3 linked regions of the Homo sapiens genome follow. The protein of the gene in region 3 purifies or fractionates together with the protein of the main gene of each other region. This does not show direct contact. Each region holds a gene or a part of one and is shown on either strand. Other genes may lie near its edges.

Region 1 (7,040 bases), on a different chromosome or scaffold from region 3:
ATATATATATACACATATATATATTCCCCCCGCCTCAGAGATGGGGTCTTGCTATGTTGCCCTGGCTGAATTGGAACTCCTGGGCTCAGGCAATCCTCCCACCTCAGTCTCCTAAGTAGCTGGGACTACAGGTGTGAGCCACCATGCCTGACTTATTTTAAAACAGAAATACAGAATTTTTCATTATTTCAATATAAATATACCACTTTAAAGCTTTACATTAAGAAAGTAATAATTGTAATCATAGTATGCATGTGTTTACTCTTTTGAGATTGTATCATAAACATTTTCCAATGTTATCAAACTATCATTCATTCATCAAATATTTTCTTCATGTGATATAATATCACAATAACACCCTTGTTGAGTCACGAGTAACTTCTTCAGTACACCAAGAACAGGACAGAAGCTCTGTCTAAGCTACCCCACTTCCCTAGAGCAGGGCACAGTGCTGATCTAGGAAATGCTGACTATCTGGTTTAATGAGTGAATAAATAATTATGTATTACCCTATAGCTCTAAAATGTCTTCACAAAAATCTCTACTTTTTATTTCTGGCTTTTTCTTTCAAATTGCTCTCACTCTTATAGCTGAATATGTATAATCTTCCATGTCTTACTCCAAAATCCCAACAGTTCCTGGAGCTCTCGGCTAAATTCCCCACCATGGAAGTCAGTTCGAATAGAAGCAGGGCAAATCTGATTAATCTTCGTGATAATTTATCCATAATGTCTCTTGATACAAACCAAATATTTTTTAAATCCATCATCACTTTTTCTATGAAGCCAGGAACTGTTAAAGATTCTTCATTTGTCACCATGCTAAACCTATTGTTAAATCAACCTCTTTGTTCCCAACACTCCTGATCCCCAAAAACTGTTCAGGAAAAGGATTATTTCCAATCCAATCAAATAAAAACAATACGACAACTACTATTATTACTCATTGTCAGTGTCTCACTGTCAAACTTGTCACCTATGAGCCTAACCACACTGATTTAAAGCTCTGGCAAAGTTGTTACCATCTGTATGCCTTGCTAGAATAAGCAGCTCAGGCAACTCCCAGTTCAGGGAGTTCTATCCATACTGTTGCAAATTATGGGATTTCACTCTTTTTTTATGGCTGAATAGTATTCCATTGTGTATACATACCACATTTTCTTTATCCATTCATCCACTGATGGACACTTAGGTGGATACACTGATTCCCTTTCTTTTGGGTAAATACTCAGTAGTGAGACTGCTGGATCATATGGTAGTTCTATTTTTAGTTTTTTTATTGTTCTCCATAGTGGCTGTACTAATTTACATTCCTACCCACAGTATATGAGGGTTCCCCTTTCTCTACATCCTTTCCAGCATTTGTTATTGCCTATCTCTTTGATAAAAGCCATTTTAATTGGGGTGAGATGATAGCTCACTGTACTTTTGATATGCATTGCCCTGATCACTACTGATGTCGGGAATTTTTTCATATACCTGTTGGCCATTTATTTGTCTTCTTTTGAGAAATGTCTATTCAGATCTTTTGTCCATTTTTAACTTGGATTATTTCTGATGGCGGGAAATCCTTTTGTATCAAGCAGAGGGAAGCATTTTTCTGCTTATCTAAGCTTGTGTAAGTAAATCAGTAGAGGCTTCCTGTTTCCTAACACCCATCGGCCAACCTAAACAAATAACTGTTACGTTATTTAAAACAAAGAAAAAGTTCTGATCAGTGTCCACTGGCTAATAAAGTCATGTAGGTCTCGATTTTTAACCATCATGTTATGATGAACAATGAGTAACCTAGGAAATTAAATGTTTATGAAACTATCAGTATTATTAAAAGAATTACATGTATTAACACATATCACATGTAAATTACACGTATTATTTTTATGATCAGTTGAAAAAATGTTTTTTAAAAAAAATAACAGTTCCCTTGGTGAAGAAAACCTATTATTTTTTTTTTTTACACTTTAAGTTCTGGGATACATGTATAGAACATGCAGGTTTGTTACCTAGGTATACACGTGCCATGGTGGTTTTCTGCAACCATCAACCAGTCATCTACGTTAGGTATTGAAGAAAACCTATTCTCATAAGACTTTAGATGGTTTGGTTTTCCTTAACAGCTAACTTAATGAAAATTTATTAAAGCTACTCCCTGATAAACACTTTCCTATTTCCACTAAATGCCACTGTTACAATTTATTGTGCTTAATCTACCTCAAATGTGTACGCTAAAGGAATGTGTCCAATAAACTAACAGCTTAATTCTCCCTTGAGAGAGTACAGCCTTAAAAGTGATTTAACTCTTCTGCTGCAGGCATACAGGGTGACATGAATGAGCACAGGATACTGGTTGGTCTTCTAGTCCAGGATTTCCAGCTGCCCAAAAAAAGGGCAAAACTGAACTTCCATAATCTATTCTGTGAATCTTAACTGAGCAAGCTAATATAATCCAGGTGGAGGCTAGATGCTAGAAATTCAACAACCAGCGTCTACATAAAAATCAGAAGCAGCTGGGTATGGTGGCTCACGCCTGTAATTCCAGCACTTTGGGAGGCCAAGGAGAGGGGATCACGAGGTCAAGAGATCGAGACCCTCCTGGCCAACATGGTGAAACCCCGTTTCTACTAAAAATACAAAAATTAGCTGGGCGTGGTGATGCACACCTATAGTACCAGCTACTCGGGAGGCTGAGGCAGGAGAATCGCTTGAACCTGGGAGGCAGAGGTTGCAGTGAGCCGAGATCATGCCACTGCATTCCAGCCTGGCGACAGAGTGAGACTCCATCTCAAAAAAAAAAAAATCAGAAGCACAAAAGTGTACAAAGTAGAGTTGGGTCAACAAAAGGCATTCATTAGGTCAGAAAATACCAAAGCTCTGAGAGCTGTTTGAACACAGGCCCCTAAGCACTGGTGCTGCTCCGTAACAGTCACCAAACGTTTCCTTCTTACCTCTTCTACATTTGCACTGGATTTTGCGCTTGTCTCCAAGAATTTAATCCCATAGTCAATTGCTAGCTGAAAAGTAAACAGAAATATTTAAATTTAGCAAAAGATACTTGAACACATAATGCATTTGTATTTCTTAGGTTTTTCAAAGTCTCAAAGGTAGGGTATCTATTTCAGAACTCCTGTGGTTCTCAAATTTCTTTGCTTTCTTCTACTGTATTCAGAATTTAATAATTTAACTTAATCATCGTAAGAAGGATGGCACAACTTCCATTTCAAACATAATTTAAGGCCGGGCATGGTGGCTCACGCACTTTGGGAGGCCGAGGCAGACGGATCACGAGGTCAGGAGATCGAGACCCTCCTTGCTAACATGATGAAACCCCGCCTCTACTAAAAATACAAAAAATTAGCCGGGCGTGGTGGCACCCGCCTGTAGTCCCAGCTACCCGGGAGGCTGAGGCAGGAGAATTGCTTGAACCCAGGAGGCAGAGGTTGGAGTAAGCCGAGATCGCACCACTGCACTCCAGTCCAGGTGACAGAGCGAGACTCTGTCTCAAAATAAATAAATAAATAAAATAATAATAATAATTTAAGTACTTCTCTTTTTTTCTGTTTTTGTACTTTTAGTTCTCTAATATGGGATAAATACCCACCCTCCTAAGGTAGCAGAATAGGGTCTGGAGGCAGGGAACCTAAGGCCAATTCACATTGACTTCCTAGAACTAAATCAAAAGAAAAACCCCAGCCTTCCATGCCCAAGTAACAAAAGTACAGGGGTTACTCCCTTTGCAACCTCCTCCCCTTTTCTGACTCACAGATTAAAAATGGAAAGTACCTCTGATTGGTCCCCTCCCACAACCAATCAGACGTCTGCGCAGGGTATAACTTTGTAACTTCATTTCATCCTTTGATTGGTCACCTTCTGCAACCAATCAAACTGGTCATGGGCCACTACTTCATTTACAGAGTGTAAACCAAGTAACCCATGGGAAATTTCTAGAGGGTATTTAAACCCCAGAAAATTCTGTAACCAGTGCTCAAGCTGCTTGCTCAAGCCCACTCCCACTCTGTGGAGTGTACTTTCATTTCGATAAATTTGTGGTTTTGGCTTCATTCTTTCATTGTTTGTGTGTGTGCATTTTGTCCAATTCTTTGCTCAAAATGCCAAGAATCTGGCTGACTTGTAGTCAAGACCCTCCACTGGTAAAACTACCATTATCTTGGGATTCATTCACTCCTTTTATCTGCTCCCAAAGTTTAATTCTCCAACAGTTACTGTATTGACTTTTAGGCCGGGTGTGGTGGCTCACGCCTGTAATCCCAGCACTTTGGGAGGTCGAGGCAGGCAGATCACCTGAGGTCAGGAGTTAAGAGACCAGCCTGGCCAGCATGGTGAAACCCCGTCTGTACTAAAAATACAAAAATTAGCCTGGTGTGGTGGCAGACGTCTATAATCCCAGCTACTTGGGAGGCTGAGACAGGAGAATCGCTTGAACCAGGGAGCCAGAGGTTGTAGTGAGCCAAAATTGTGCAATTGCACTCCAGCCTGGGTGACAAGAGTGAAACTCCATCTCAAATAAAAAAAAAAAAAACTATACTTACTTTTAATTACTTTTTTTTTTTTTTTGAGACACAGTCTTGCTCTGTTGCCCAGGCTGGAGGAGTACAGTGGCACTATCTCAGCTCACTGCAACCTCCGCCTCCTGGGTTCAAGTGATTCTCCTGCCTCAGCCTCCTGAGTAGCTGGGACTACAGACGCACGCACGCCACCATGCCCGGCTAATTTTTGTATTTTTAGTAGAGACAGTGTTTCACCATGTTGGTCAGGCTGGTCTCGAACTCCTGACCTCGTGATCCACCCACCTCGGCCTCCCAAAGTGCTGGGATGACAGGTATGAGCCACTGCGCCAGGCCTTAATTAATTTTAATAAATGAGTCCAGAATTGAACAAAAACTTAAATACTAAAGTATTCATGCTTTGATTTCTATTGATTGAGACAAATTGCGAACTCTTATATATTCCTCAAAAAGTTCCTAGTTCATTTACAATGCTAAAATTAAGTAAATGTTTTTAGGGGAAAAAAGTTTGCAGCAAAAGTTCACAGTCAGATTGAAAAACAAAATGTGGCTGGGCATGGTGCCTCACACCTGTAATCCCAGCACTTTGGGAGGCCGAGGCAGGTGGATTGCTTGAGGCCGGGAGTTCAAGAGCAGCCTGGCCAGCACGGCAAAACCGCGTCTCTACTAAAAATACAAAAATTAGCCGGGTATATGTGTGTGGTGGCACATGCCTATAATCCCACCTTCTTGGAGGCTGAGGCATGAGAATTGCTTGAAGCCAGGAGGCAGAGGTTGCAGTGAACTGAGATTACGCCACTGCACTCCAGCCTGGGAGACAGAGCAAGACTTTGTCTCAAAAAAAAAAAAAAAGAAAAGAAAATGCATTTTGCATATATAATTTTTTTAAAGGCTAAAGCAAAATTCCAAGACTTAAAAAGTGAAGCTTCTAAGTCAATTTAGAATCTGTCACAGAAGTAAATATGTACACAAAATATTCCTTTGCTTTACAGGACACAAAAGAGAGAAATGCCCATGCCCATAAACAACATATAAATGACATCCATAGCTTGATCAGTTACAAGGAATTTATCCATAAAACCTAACGCTAATGTGTAGTAAAATATTCTTAGGGAAAAAAATGAATTGGAAAATGATTCCTGTTGAAACTTCACCTATCCCTATAACTTCTTTTTCAAAAAGAATGTTTACTTTAACTTCAAAACTGGGCATTTTCACACAGATCTGGAAGAAACAGCCTGAACTCTAAGCTGCAGGAATCTGAGAAAGGACCAATTTGTATCTCCCAGAAAACATTAGCAAATTCTTTAGGAATGAGTCATGACCACACAGTATAGAGAGCTGGATCTCGAATACTAATTCACACCATTCAAGTATGGATTACATCTCTTTGTTGTTGATATCCAATTTAAAGGGATTAAAACACAGATTTTAAAAAAAATCAATAATTAAATAATATGAAGAAAAGAAATGCTTAATGTGAGTAGATTCCAACCTTTATCCATTCCATTCACATTTACCTTCTCCCCTCTTTCTTTTGACACTTGTCTTTTGTCATTCATATCACATTTGTTACCCAGGATCATTCTTTCGACATCGGAAGAGGCATGCTGCAGGGAGAAAATAGCATGCTATAAAAACAGCCTGAGAAAAACCCGTTACTTAATAGACAAATCCAACCTGTCAGAAACACATGAATTTAATAAGACATAATCTTTTACTCACACAAGGCCTAATTCAGAGAAAAGTTTAAAGATGGGAAGAGGGGCAAAGCTACAGTACAAGAGCCCTCACAGAGCCTGTGCAAACCTTCTTCCCGAGGTTTGGAAAGAAGGTGGAACAAACACAAATAAAGCTTATGGTGATCTAATGACAAAATTTCCAAATATTCAGGTCAAAGAAGGACAAAAACTTGGTACTGAGTGAACCAGTGGAGATGGTATTCTAGATTCTGTACTATTTTAAAAAGAAATTCATCTAAGTTTATAGAAACGTGTACAAAATTATTTCAGAGTCAGATTTCTTTCTTAAGTGACAAAGACATTAAAAAAATCTTAATACCAATTATCCTGGAATTAAAACAATCTTCAAATATCTAAGATGGAGAAAATGTCAGAAGGGCAAAAAGTTGCCAAGGTAAAGAGATAATTGTTGCTAGCCAAACAGCATGGTGGGATAGAAGCTGGGAACCAGATGTTTTAATCCTGGCTCTTCTTTTTAAAGGCTGTATGAGCACAGGCAAATCACTTCTTTCTGTTCTCAGTTATTCATGTGTAAAATGTGATCTAGGATTAAATTATTTCCCATATCTGGCCCAAGCTTAAAATCTTGTGACGTTACTTCTCTGTCCCCCTAACCCCCAGTAGTCAGACTGGCAGCACCAGAGATTTATGGAGCTCTTCAGAGAGAGAGGGCCCAACCTGCCCATGCCCTGCTTCTAAGCAGCTCAGCTGCCTTGCAGACAGAGGAGCCTTTTACAAGCACCCAGCAGGACTCTTCTCCAATGTCACCATTCTCT
Region 2 (7,040 bases), on a different chromosome or scaffold from region 3:
CAGGCGTGAGCCACTGCGCCCAACCTGATAACATTTTTAATTACTTTTCCAGAATATGTTGTCTTGGCTGGCCCCTCAGTGAGCACCTAATGGAACGTGTATCCCTGAATTTCATTTCCTTTGGCATTACAACCTCTGGTATGAAACTTTGTGATAATAAATACAGTTACGTTCACACACAAATTTGACAGACTAGACCACTTTTTTATTACAGCTTAATTGGCACATGGTTCACTGAAGATACACTTCACTTTTACATAGGCTTGTAAATAGAAAAATACATTGATGCACAAAAAATATAGTACTTCAATACCAAACTTAAATGATTTCCAAAAAGAATACAGGTTATTTCAATAATTAAAGGTGGCTTTTGTGTGTGCACTATATCATGTATACACTTAATTGTATGTTTAAGGCCAGTGGAATCTATAGCTAATTACTCATTTGGTTCTTGAAAACTGAAACATGCAAACATTCTTATTTTTATGTTTAAAGACATTTAATGTGTTATTCTAACACAAATACACCATATAGAATATGCCCTGATATGTAGCTGTAAAATTATGTTGTACTGCACTGAAGTCTTATGGCAACTATATAAGGCACTGCTGTGTGATTATGACCCTGCTCTTTTTTTTTTTTTTTTTTTTTGAGACAGAGTCTCCTCTGTCGCCCAGGCTGGAGTGCAGTGGCGCAATCTCGGCTCACTGCAAGCTCCGCCTCCCAGGTTCACGCCATTCTCCTGCCTCAGCCTCCTGAGTAGCTGGGACTACAGGTGCCCACCACCACGCCCAGCCCATTTTTTTTTTTTTTTTTTTTTTAGTAGAGATGGGGTTTCACTGTGTTAGCCAGGATGGTCTCGATCTCCTGACCTCGTGATCCGCCCTCCTCGGCCTCCCAAAGTGCTGGGATTACAGGTGTGAGCCACCGCGCCTGGCCAACCCTGCTCTTGAAATGTCTAAATCTTTTCCTCACTAGCATATACAATTCAAATGCACAGGCCTCCATGACTTCTTTGGAATTTAAAAGAAGCCTTCATTTCAAGGATAGAAATATGTAAAATTTTACCAACCATGGATAAGTTTGTTATGGGAGTAGTGGAAGGACAGTGGAAAAAAAAATAGGTTTTTTCATGATACTTTTATTTTTCCTTTTTTAAAAATAAATTTAGGGGGTACAAGTACAGTTTAGATACATGAATATATTGTGTAGTCGTAAAGTCTGGGCTTCTAGTGTAACCATCACGCAAATATACTTGTATTTTTCTAATTACAGTTCTACCAAACATTTGCCACCACAAAATACAAGTATTTTTATTCTTTATTTAAATTATGGTGAGTGATATTTCTTCCTATATAGCCATTAAGATCTCTGGAAGTTTTGATCTACTTTATTCAAACCACTTTAATAAATAAGACTTTTCACCTAAATGAAATACCTTTGAATTTTATAAACAACTTCCATGAAACATATATTAAAACCACCTTTAATTTGGTATGAAGACACTTTGGCAATGCAGCGGAATAAATGATCTTGGCAAGACCCAGCAAGTACAGTAAATGCTCATGAGCTCTATGAAAAATATAGGCTACAGAATACTTCATTTTTCTTTTATTGAACTACAGTACAAATGTGACTGCTTCAATATGAACATCTATCTTCCACCAAATAGCAAACAGGCATCTTATGTAATTAAAAACTAATTATTTCAATTCCACCAATGGAAAAGCAAAACAAGTTGCAAATATCAACAATACAGAGCCTGCTGGTAAAGATAGAGATGAGTAAGTTATAAGCTAATAAAGCTGCAGCCTGAGGATGCCAGATCAACATTATAAATATGAAGAAAAAGAAACTAAATATTTACTCATCGCAAATAACTCGGCATAAGCACCAGCTATGTTCAGGTGCGGCCAGCACATAGGCCAAGTATAAATGTACAATCACAGTGAACTAAAGCCATAAAATCTAGTTCCCTGACCCTTCAATCAACCATTCAGAGCAATGGGAATATAGCGGGGAGACAGAAGTCCCACTTTGGTTGCTCATATTACATTAAGCCAGCCTGCCCCACCCCAATCCCCTTCCCACCAATAAAAAAGTCACCGTGAGTGTATAATTGGTCAATCCAGTTTATCCAAGGTCTATAGATATAGCCATGATTTGTCCTATATTCATGTTAAATAGAATGCTTACATAAAATTAATACTCAAAGACATTGAGCTGATGTGCATGTATATTCTTATTTAACATTTAAGTGGCTTTAATGGTATTTTAGAATGTCACCTATGGCATGAGTCTTCAAATCTGGATTGAAGACTGTGGCGGTTTTATAACTGCATGTAAGATCTTAAATGTAAGACTCTGGGCCTACCTACATTAAGGCAGGTGACAGTACCCTCATTCATTCTACATAATAAATACACTCTTCTGTGACTGCAAAATTCTGAATCCTTGAATGATTTACTATAATAGGCTAAGGTTGTATAAGGCACTTTTGGCTCTGAAATATTTCTCCTAACTCTCAGGCTGAATCTTAAAGAAATATTTACAAAGCTGCAACAAATTAATTTTAGAACCGGATGCTTTATTCGTAGGTCTAATGGGGATGGTGAGAAGCAATTTGTACACAATGCCCATTAATCTCTCACTGTGCCATGTATCAATCATAGAGAAGATCCCAGGCATGGGCCACCTGAACTACTATGTCGCTTACTTGACTTCTCAACAGCCACATGCCCCTTTCTCCTTTTCTTCACTTAACTGATCCGTAGAGGCATGACCATTTGATCGCACCACTCCTTCAGGAATCCAGGACTTGTCCACACACCGTTCCATTCGCTTCATTATCAGGTCCAGAAGCATCTCAATTGCTTGGCTTATGTTTGTCCCATTGGCAGCACTAGTTTCAAAGTAGGGGATTCTGGAAGACAGAGACAACTGAGGTAACAACATGTGGAGGGAAAGGAGAGTGACCTTTGCTCTTGATAATTCAAATTAGAGAATCGATAGAATACAAATATACAAGATGACAAACATTTTACCACCCCAGAGTACATTAAAAAGTTAAAAAGACAATAAAATACTCACACTGCATTTCCAGTAGATATGCAAAACTGGAAATTTTAGACTCTTCAAAATATCAATTTTTGGCTGGGCGCAGTGGCTCACACCTCCCAGCACTCTGGGAGGCTCAGGTGGGCAGATCACCTGAGGTCAGGAGTTTAAGACCAGCCTGGCCAACATGCGGAAACCCCATCTCTACAAAAAATACAAAAATTAGCCAGGAATGGTGGCATACACCTGTAATCCCAGCTACTGGGGAGGCTGAGGCTCAAGAATCACTTGAACCTGGGAGGCAGAGGTTGCAGTGAGCCAATATTGTGCCACCGCACTCCAGCCTGGGCAATAGAGTTAGACTGTCTCAAAAAAAATCAATTTTCATTTTTTAAAGGACCATATATATATTTTGGCAATACATACTGATTTACTGTAAAAAATTTATAAAAAGATATAAGTAGGGGATTCTGGAAGACAGAGACAGAATTAAATCTTTTTTCGTTTAAGTTTTTGGAGGGTTTTTTGTTTTGAGACAGAGTCTCTATCACCCAGGCTGGAGTGCAGTGGCACGATCTCAGTTCCCAGGCGACTTCCCAGGCATCGATCCTCCTACCTCAGCTTTCCAAGTAGCTGGGACCACAGGCGCACACCACCACACCTGGCTAATTATTGTATTTTTTTGTAGAGACAGGGTTTTACCATGTTGCCCAGGCTGGTTTCGAACTCCTGAGCTCAAGCTACCCACCCGCCTTGGCCTCCAAAGTGCTGGGACTACAGGTGTGAGCTGCTGCACCCAGCCTAGTTTTAAGAATTTAAAACTTGATTATTGGTATGAAAGCCGTTTAAATTCCTCTAAGTGAAAAGTAAAACTTGAAAACTTTTAGAAGAACATACAACAGTCTTATCTTTTTGACATTGGAATAAGAAAGGATTTCTTAATATAGCTATAAAAGCTCAAACCACAGAGAATAAGTTTGATAATCTTGACAATGTTAAAGTTTAAAACTTTGGTGCCACAACATATATCATAAGCAAAGTTAAAAGATGAGCGACAGGCCGAAATACATGGCATTTCATATAACTTGCAAACGGGTTAGCATCCGAAAAAATAATTCCTCAAATGAATTAAAGTAATAAACAAGATAATACAAAACAGACTAAGGATATGCACGGGAAATTCTAAGAAATTACATTTGTGAAAAAATGTTCAACCTCACCCAAAATAAGGGAAATGCAAGTTAAAATAATGGTATATTAACTCACACCCATCAGATTGGCAAAAATATAGAAATCTCCCAATATTAAGTATTGCCAAGGAGAAGAAAAGAGGAACTTGCACTTACTGCTTATGTAAGTATAAACTGTTAATAACTACTTTGGAAAATAAGACGGTAATATCTGATAAAATTGAAACATGCATGCACTATGACCCAGCAACAGCACTCCTGGGTATACATCTAAAGCAGAGCCAAGGCATGTTGATGGGCAGGAAGTGAGTTACAGGGATACATGAGACATCAGCAATCCCTCAGTCCTTAGGGCAACTGAGAAGGTCTTAGGGCAGCCAGAGTCCCTGAACCAGTCTCCTCCAAACTTGAGCAGCCTTATCTATTTATCCCAGTGAGCTGTACAAATATTATCATTTTCTGCAGGTGCCATCCTATGAAAAATATTCAGAAACCCTGTGCTGGAGCAGCACTATCCAATAGAACTTCCCACAGTGACAGGAACTTTCCATATGTATATCATCCAGTACAATAACTACTAGCCACATGTAGCTATTGAGCACTTAAAATGTGGCTAATGCAACCAAAAATGCGACTTTTTTGTTTTTGTTTTTGTTTTGTTTTGTTTTTTAGAGATGGAGTCTCACTTTGTTGCCCAGGCTGGAGTGTAATGGTGTGATATTGGCTCATTGCAACCTCTGCCTCCCAAGTTCAAGCGATTCTCGTCCCTCAGCCTCCCAAGTAGCTGGGACTACAGGAACAGGCCACCACTCCCAGCTAATTTTATCATGTTGGCCAGGCTGGTCTCAAACTCCTGACCTCAAGTGATCTGTCTGCCTCCACTCCCAAAGTGCTGGGATAACAGGCATGAGCCACCACACCTGGCCAAAAAACCTGAACTTTTAATTTTAACTTAAATAGCTACATGTGACCAGTGGCTATCACACTGGATAGTGCAGCCCTAGAGAAGCTCTCACATATGTGCACGTGGCATCGTCTAATGGAATAGATATTGCAGAACTATTTGTAATAGGGAAAAAATTTACCTAAACGTCCATCAATAAGCGCATGAATAGTGATATTTTTATACAATGAATTATACAATGCTTAAACTGTATCAACATGGCAAAAATTAAACATTGAATTAAAAAACCAACTTGTATGATACAAGATCATTTGTGTGAAGACAACAATTACACATCATTATAAAAACATCTATGTAGTAAAAGTACAACTTCTTGGACTAGAAATATATAATTTTGACTGCTTTTAGCTAAAAGTAACCGAAAATTGTGGCTCAAATTGGCATGAATCACAAGTAGGAATTTATTGTAATGCATAATGAACACAGAACTAGAGAGTTTCCAGTGTTAATTCGGTTGCCAAACGGTAGAAACAAAGAGCCTAGATTCATATCATCCTTCTGTTCTGCCATCCTCCACATGTCAGCTTTCTCCACAATCTGACTCCCTTCATGACCCCAGAAGTTAAAACATTCCAGGCATCACATCTCAACACACCGAAGTTCCAAGGAAGAAAGGACTCTTCCTCTGTGTGCCTCCCTCAGGAGAGAGGAAATCTTTCCCACAAGTCCCTGGAAGACTTTCCCTCGTGTCTCATTGGTCAAAACTGTATCACATGCCAATGCCTAAACCAAACTCTGGCAAGAGGAATGGTACACCACCATCACTGGCTTAAACCAATCAGTCTTCCTGGGCTGGTGGCTGGCACCTGCCTCTCTTAAGTAGCATGTCCTCTAGAAGCAGAGTAGATAGCTAAAGAAAATTGAGATTCTATAAATAAAGGCATGAATATTGTCTAGGCAACCAACAACATCTGCTATAGGAAGTAGATATAGTGTGGTTCCCTCTGAGGAGGTAGGAAGGAGAATGGAATCAGCAAGGAATTTTAAAAGGGACTTCAATTGTATCTGTAAGAAAATTTTATTTTTTATTTATGCATAATATAGTTTCAGAGTAAATATGATCATTTAATACACTGATATAATGTGTAAAGATAAGTATACTTGGGATTGCCATAATCTTAAATATTTGTCTTTTCTTTATACTAGAACGATTGGAATTTTTCCCTCCTAGCTATTTCAAGATATACAATAGATTGTTGTAAACTATAGTCACCCTACTGATCCTTCTAACACTACATCTTATTTCTTCTATCAAACCATATGTTTGTACCTATTAATCAATCTCTCTTCATCCTCCACTCCCTCCTACCCTTCCTGGCCTCTGGTATTCTCCAATCTACTCTCTATCTTCATGAGATCCACCTTTGTAGCTCCCACATATGAGTAAGAACATGCAACATTTGTCTTTCTGTGTTTGGCTATTTCACATAACATAATGATCTCCAGTTCCATCCAAGCTGCTGCAAATGATGGGATTTCATTCTTTTTATGGTGGAATAACATTCCATTGTATATATAAACCATATTTTATTTATCCATTCATCCATTGATGGGTAGATTGATTGCATATCTTAGCTCTTGTGGATAGTGCTGCAATAAACATGGGAGTACAGAGAGCAAATACCCTTTTGATATATCTGATATACATCTCTATATATCTTTTGGGATATATATATATCTCTCTCCTAAGAAAACTTACATAAAACTTTTAAGAAAACTTCCACTAATATATATACACATATATATACACATATATATGTGTATGTGTGTACATATACATATATACACACATATGTGTGTATGTATACATATATACACACATGTGTGTA
Region 3 (6,674 bases):
ATCAGTGTGTGAAGAACACTGGATTCTGGGAGTCCAACGATCGAACTCCTTTCCTGGTATTGCCTTTGTTTAACACTGGACATGGCATTTTCTTCTCTGGACCTTGGTTTCTTCATCTGTCTAAAAAGTGAGTTGATTGAACTAGGTTGTGGCTCAATTGTATGTTCTCTTTTAGCTTTGGCAATTTCTGATTCTGCAACCACCTGGGACGTTTCCCAGGTCTTGTAGCAGCAGGAGGAGGATGAGGATGTTGCCCTCCTGTTTGGTAGGCACCAGCAAAAAGTATTCTTCTAGAAGGGTTTGGAGTCAGCCAAGTTACCTTAGGCCCACCTGCCCAAGATAAAATCCACCATAAAGCAAACTCCTCGTGGGCAGAGAACACATCTGTCGCCAGTGCCTGGAACATAGTAGATGCTCATTAAGTACTGACTATCAGAATAGCATATGTCCTGGTGGGGAGGAGGACTTCGCAGAAACCAGAAAGGAAAACTGCAGACCACTCGTTTTCTTGGATGCTCCTACTTTATTTTTGGCTACATCATCACAAAGAAAGATGCTGGGTGGTTGTGCATGCACCGGAGGACGTGTGTGTATTCTAGGCAGGGAGGTGGTTACATTTGTCGGGGACAGCGGGCACCCAGACTAGGGGCACTGTGAGCTTGCTGCATGCTGATTCCAGCGCCTACACCAGCATCAGGCTTGGGCGACACAGCCAGCATGCTGTCTCCTAAGGGGAAACTGTGGTGAGGGAGGTGGGCTGAGAGTAGGTGCCACCAGGGACTAATGGGGAAAGATAAGGTCAAAAGGAAAGATGGCAGCCAGGAAGCTGTTGGCCACCTTGGGGAAGGTGAAGAGCTCGATGTTTAGAAAATGGTTATTCAAGGCAAGAAATGAGTCCTCCCATGAATTGTGCAGGGAGCTGAGGGTGGAGGGCGTTGAAAAGTTAAGAGATGTGATTTGGGGAAAGTGAGAGTTTGAGTATCTGTCTGATGCTTCTGTAGAGAATGTCAGGGGTTTGGGATGACTGGGAGTGATTTTCATGAGGGAAGACTTCATCAAAATTGGGAAAATCGAACCTTTCTCACAGGGCATTGAAGATTGCCTGACTTCAACCTCAAATTTGTAATGTTTGCCCACATTGCCTTTTCCTCCTTTATAAAATAATTTTTTTTATAGGAAGAAAGTGAAAGATTGATGATGAGCCCAAAGCCTTTGGCATCAGGCCTGTCTCTCTCTACTGTTCCATAGCCATGATATTATTTGATTCTCCCAGGAAGCTTAGTAACGAGAGTGCAGGAGACAGAGAGACAGACAAAGAGAGACAGAGAGACTGGAGGGGGTTCTGAGTGAGAGATGGGATGCAAAAGAGTCAATGAAACAGAGTCAAGGGCATTGGGGAGGAGGGTAGCTTGTTCATTTACCTAAGAGCGGAGAAAGGAGAAAGGCTGGAGGCTTTGGCTGAGGCTTCCTCAGACCCATGGCCCTGGTCTTCTAAATGCCTCCGTGCCCACCCGGGGAGCCCACGGATGAGAGAGTCCTCTATGGGGCATCTACACAGCTTGAGGGATGCTGCCATGCACTCAGGGCAGTGCCAGCCATTGGCCCAAGCCCTGGGAATGTCTGGTTCTGCCAACGGGAGGAGTGGGTCAGTTAAGAAGCGTGGGCCCAAGTGGAATCTCAGGTTTGGGCCAGTTTCTCAGTTTCCTGGTCAGGCTGGTGAGAGCAAGGGGGTGAGGCTAGGTTAACATACACTTTTTTTGCTGTTGTTTTTGCGGTGTTACTGCTTTAGAGAGAGAGAAAGGCAAAGGGAAGAAAGGCAGGGAGAGAAAGGAGAGGGGAGAGGCTGAGAAAGAGAGAATCTACTATCATGGAAGGGAAAGAAGAGGGAGGAGGAGAAAAGGTGACAGAGGAAGGGTTTTTTGTTGTTGTCGTTTGTTTTTGTTTTGCTAGGAAGCACACAGGTGACATTCGGAAAGAGGAGAGCGTCCAAGCCCCTGGTGAATTCTGTGCATTTGCATCCTGGTGCACTTGGAGCAGGGAGGGTGTGTTACTGAACACAGCAGTCTGTTTTCCTGGCAATCAGGGTGTACATCTCAGGGGGCAGTGGGAGCCCGGAGGCTCTATTTGTGCCCCAATGCTTCTCTCACAGCATTGTCCGGGTCTGCTGACAACTGGGGATATACAGAGACACAACACAGGGAATGAAAGGGTGTGTGTGTGTGTGTGTGTGTGTGTGTGTACATGTGTGTGTTCAAGGCTAGGAGGGTCTAAAAACAGTCCTAAATGATGAAGAACCTTTGTAATTTACCCAAACTGAGAGGTTATTAAATGATCAACCTCTTTGTAAACGTCTCCCCAACCCCATCCCCATTGCTCCATCCCAGGGATGAGAGAGGGGCTGTATTCAGAGCCCACATCCCAGCATCAGGGAGGAGGGAGTCTTTGGCAGCAGTGCCCAACGTGACGGGGGCTCAAAGGCAGGCTCAGGGAGATCAGCAGGGTATGGGGGGAGGTAGGCATAGAGAAGAGAGATCAGGGTGCGGTGGGCAGCTAGAGCAGGCTGGGGGGGACCCGGGACATGGAGATGGGGACCTGGGCACTAGCCTAATCACTTGACACGTGGTTCTCATTCTGTAGCTGGTGCCAGCGCTCTATCTTCTTGTCTTTATTTTTCAGACACTCGTACCAGTGTTTTAAGCGCTCTCCCTTGGCAGAGATCCCCAGCTGGCAGCCTCCTGGAGGATAAATGGGAAGATAGGAGCAGGTGGTCAGAATAGAGGTCGTTCTAGACCCAAATGTGTAGTTGGGGAAAAAACTGCACCAAGCAGTGACCCCCAGCAACCTGGGATCCATACTCTATAGAGAGTTGTTATAACGTTGCTGCTGTTGTTGTTATTATTATTACGGTCCTTCTCTGCCTCAAGAACCTGCAATGGCTCCCTACTGTTCCACTGAGTCATAATTTCACTGTCTATTTTTAAAGGCTTTCTACAAATCACCATTCTACTCACTGAAACTTATCTCCCACTACTTCTGGGAACTCATTGTCTATTTCCAAAAAGGTTCATCATCCTGCTCAATCCTGTCTTTACCCCTTAGCTCAGGCTCTGTCCCTTGCCTGGAGTCCCCACCCCCCTGCTTCATCTTTAATTGATTTTCTTCCTCATGATTCAAACAGGAACTAAAAAATTAAAAATTTTATCCTGGACATGCAAATAAATTAAGAATTCTTTTGCACCCTGCTTTCTGCAGAGAACGCAAATCTCTCCTGTGATTTAATTACCCCACTGGAGGTGATTTGTTCAACAAATAATCAAGTTTTGTAAGGCTTTTCATGTAAAGACATCCCCAAATTGGACCAAGGTCAAGATCATGGGTCTCAATTTAGCATTTGAACAATGAGGTTGCCAAAAGAATAGCAATGACCTCAACTCTCTGTAGCCCTGGATAAGGCTCTCCTGTTCTGGGGAGGACAGAAGAGGGCGTTTTCTCTGGAGTTAGGAACACTCACCGATGTAATCATTGGACTTGCCGATGTCATAGTCCCAGACTGAAATGTCCAGTGACTTCTTTGCCAGGTCACTGTGTTTGATGTCATAGAAAAACTCCTGAATACAACAGAGGAAGACATGTGGGTAAGAGCCCTCTGAACCCACAGCATTGGGAGGTAAGAGGCCGAGTCCTAGGGGTTATGGGCCAAGGAGAGGTCCTTGAGCTGGCATTCTGGGAGCAAGGAGGTCTTCCCGTGCCGATCCTCTGCCCCAGGTCCCGTGATCCCCTTCCAACAAACACTCTGTGTAACAAAGCACTGTCATCCTCTTTTCAGTGAATTCTCTGCTTGAAATTGGGAAGGCTGGTGAGGTTTTTCTAATAGAGCTCAAGTTTCCTTGTAGGTAAATGGCCATGAACATAGTCCTTCCCCTCTGGTAGTTTATGAAGGGGCATCCCCTTTTTTATTGCTTAGGAATAAAAGTAGTTGAAGTGGCCGGGCCCGGTGGCTCACACCTGTAATTCCAGCACTTTGGGAGGCTGAGATGGTGGCTCATTTGAGCTCAGGAGTTCGAGACCAGCCTGACCAACATGGTGAAACCCCATCTCTACTAAAAATACAAAAATTAGCCAGGCATGGTGGTGGGCACCTGTAATTGCAGCTATTCGGGAAGCTGAGGCAGGAGAATTGCTTGAACCAGGGAGGTGGAGGTTGCAGTGAGCCAAGATCACGCCACTGCACTCCAGCCTAGGCCACAGAGTGAGACTCTGTCTCAAAAATAAATAAATAAATAAATACAGTTGAAGTGGACTGAGTACATATGTTCCCAGACAATCTGATTTTTAAAAAATAGCTTCTCTGCCTAATTACAAAATTCATTTTATGTTCATTGCTAAAACAAAGAAGAACCCCCACCCCCAATTCCCGGTAATCCAACTACCCAAGAATAACCATGTCAACATTCCCCCACATGTGTTCACAGTGATGTATAAATTTTTTGTTAACTAAGTAATGCTGAACATACAGTATTGTCACTTCCTTTTTCATTTACAACTTTGGGCAAAAACCAACTTAGCATGTTCTCAAATATTTTTCAAATATTTTTCTACATCATCATTTCAAATGGCTGCATTTAATGGCTATGTGGCCACATATTTAATGGCTATGTGGCTATTTGTGCCTCTCTAACACACAGCAAATATCCCAGAGCATGAAAAAGAATAGGGCAGCCTTACCTCATTGAATTCGGGATTCAAGGTTTTCTTTTTAATTTGAGTCTTGTGTTTGGCCTTCTTTCCCATGTCCGGTTTCAGCCAGCTGGGAGGCGACACAACATGCTATTATGGATGACGTTTAATGAATAAGAACAGCCTCTTGACCCCAAAGGCCCCTTCTTTATCAGGGTGAATTGATGAATAAATCAGAAAGGGATCAACATTGATAATGACCAATATGCATTAGAGCATCTGCTTGGTACCAGGCACTTGACTGAGCAACTTAGGCATATTTAATCCCCACATGACCCTAGGCAGTAGAACCACAACCACTCAGTTTACAGAAACAGAAACTGAGATCCAGAGAGGCAGAAGTGTGCCCTAGCTCACACAGCTGGGATTGAATCCAGATGTTGCATCTAGAGTCTGTGTTCTTAGCATGCTCACTTTCTCCCCATAAGTCAAATTGATGGCCATGGCTGGTGGTGCCTGGCATTTTACCATCTATCCCACCTTAGGCTGCCCCCAATCCCTAGAGAGAGGCTGGGTGTATGCACAGAAAGGGGAAGATGCAAATCTGATTATTGTCACTCCACTTCTCAAAACTGTGTACTGGGTTCCTTTTAAACTCAGGGGAGAGTTCAAAATCCTTCATGTGGCCTTAAGACCGTGTGTGTTGGGTTTCTGCTCCATCCCAACCTAACCTTATGCCATCCTCCTCACCCCACTCCTTACTTCTCCTTTCCACCCAAGGGCCTTTGAGCAAACTGTTTCTTCTGCCTACAGGGCTCTTTTCCAGTGAGGCCCAGTGTCTGGCACATAGTAGGTACTCAATCAATATTTTCTGGGTGAGGCTGCGTATGGTGGCTCGTGCCTGTAATCTCTGCACTTTAGGAGGCCAAAGCGGGAGGATCACTTGAGCCCAGGAGTTCCAGACCGGCCTGGGCAACATAGCGAGAGCCTGTCTCTATAAAAAATAACAAAAATTATCTGGGCACAGTGATGTATGCCTTCAGTCCCAGGTACTCAGGAAGCTGAGGTGGAAGGATCTCTTGAGCCCCAGAGTTCGAGGCTGCAGTGAGCTATGATCACACCACTGCACTACAGCCTGGGCAATAGAGCGAGACCCTGTCTCTTAAAAAAGAGAGAGAGAACAAAACACAAACCAAACAAAACAAAATATTTCCTGGGTGAGTAAACACAATGGGCTAAACACTCCTAAGGGCTGGGACATTTGGATTCTGATTCAGGTTGTCACCAGCGGAGCAACTTTAAACATGAGCGTAACTTTACCGTGCCTCTGTTTCTTGACCTGTAAAGAGGGCGAACATTTCATTCTCATCTACAGAAGTGGTTTTGAGGATAATTTTTAAGAAGAGACAAAAATGAGGAATTAGAAGTTACCAAAGAGCTAAGCAAAAATAATGGGAAGTTCTGGCTTTTAAAAAATCTTTATTTGATCAGAAACTGCTTAGTGGTCTCCCATTTTTTCTCCCATAACTGCACCCAGCAGGTCAGCTGCTTCAGTAGTGACCACGGCAATTCTACTTCTTCTGGAAGGATTGGGTAGGTGGGGGAGGGGGTGGTAGAGAGAATTATTTAAGAAAACCAATCTGCACATGGCTGACCTCTAATGGAGTGCTGGACAGCACCCCTTGAGCTCATTTCCTCTCTTGGGTCATACGAGGAAATAAAATCAAATTACTCTTAGAAACCAAACTTGTCCCTGACCTGTGTGTTCTTTGTTAACTAAATCTTCATTCAAAGGAAATGTGAAAGACAGCCCACATGGATCTGTTCTTTGGCCATGGACTAAAGGGAAGTATTGCTTTCTGTTATCAGAGGCAGTGGAGGTGGGGGGAGTGTCTCCCAACTGGAGGGGATATTAGTAAATACTCTCTGCCATGAGTAAGGACAGTGATGGTGGTTATTTATAACCATAATGGCAGGTATTTATTAGCATTTACTGT

What was found. Proteins that work in one complex are often made in the same cells at the same time.
Region 1: the proteins of RPH3A (region 3) and RAB8B purify together in Homo sapiens (affinity purification with mass spectrometry; 2 studies listed by BioGRID and IntAct, with this or other methods). This does not show direct contact.
Region 2: the proteins of RPH3A (region 3) and RAB27A purify together in Homo sapiens (affinity purification with mass spectrometry; 2 studies listed by BioGRID and IntAct, with this or other methods). This does not show direct contact.

Annotation. Positions count from the first base shown.
Region 1 is NC_000015.10:63,255,597-63,262,636, reverse strand, and holds part of RAB8B (ras-related protein Rab-8B), read right to left. Parts: intron 6,133-7,040; coding exon 6,043-6,132; intron 3,011-6,042; coding exon 2,945-3,010; intron 1-2,944. UniProt on the Homo sapiens protein: The small GTPases Rab are key regulators of intracellular membrane trafficking, from the formation of transport vesicles to their fusion with membranes.
Region 2 is NC_000015.10:55,202,783-55,209,822, forward strand, and holds the end of RAB27A (ras-related protein Rab-27A), read right to left. Parts: intron 2,924-7,040; coding exon 2,725-2,923; 3' UTR 184-2,724; downstream 1-183. UniProt on the Homo sapiens protein: Small GTPase which cycles between active GTP-bound and inactive GDP-bound states. In its active state, binds to a variety of effector proteins to regulate homeostasis of late endocytic pathway, including endosomal positioning, maturation and secretion.
Region 3 is NC_000012.12:112,892,711-112,899,384, reverse strand, and holds the end of RPH3A (rabphilin-3A), read right to left. Parts: intron 4,808-6,674; coding exon 4,726-4,807; intron 3,609-4,725; coding exon 3,512-3,608; intron 2,736-3,511; coding exon 2,605-2,735; 3' UTR 504-2,604; downstream 1-503. UniProt on the Homo sapiens protein: Plays an essential role in docking and fusion steps of regulated exocytosis.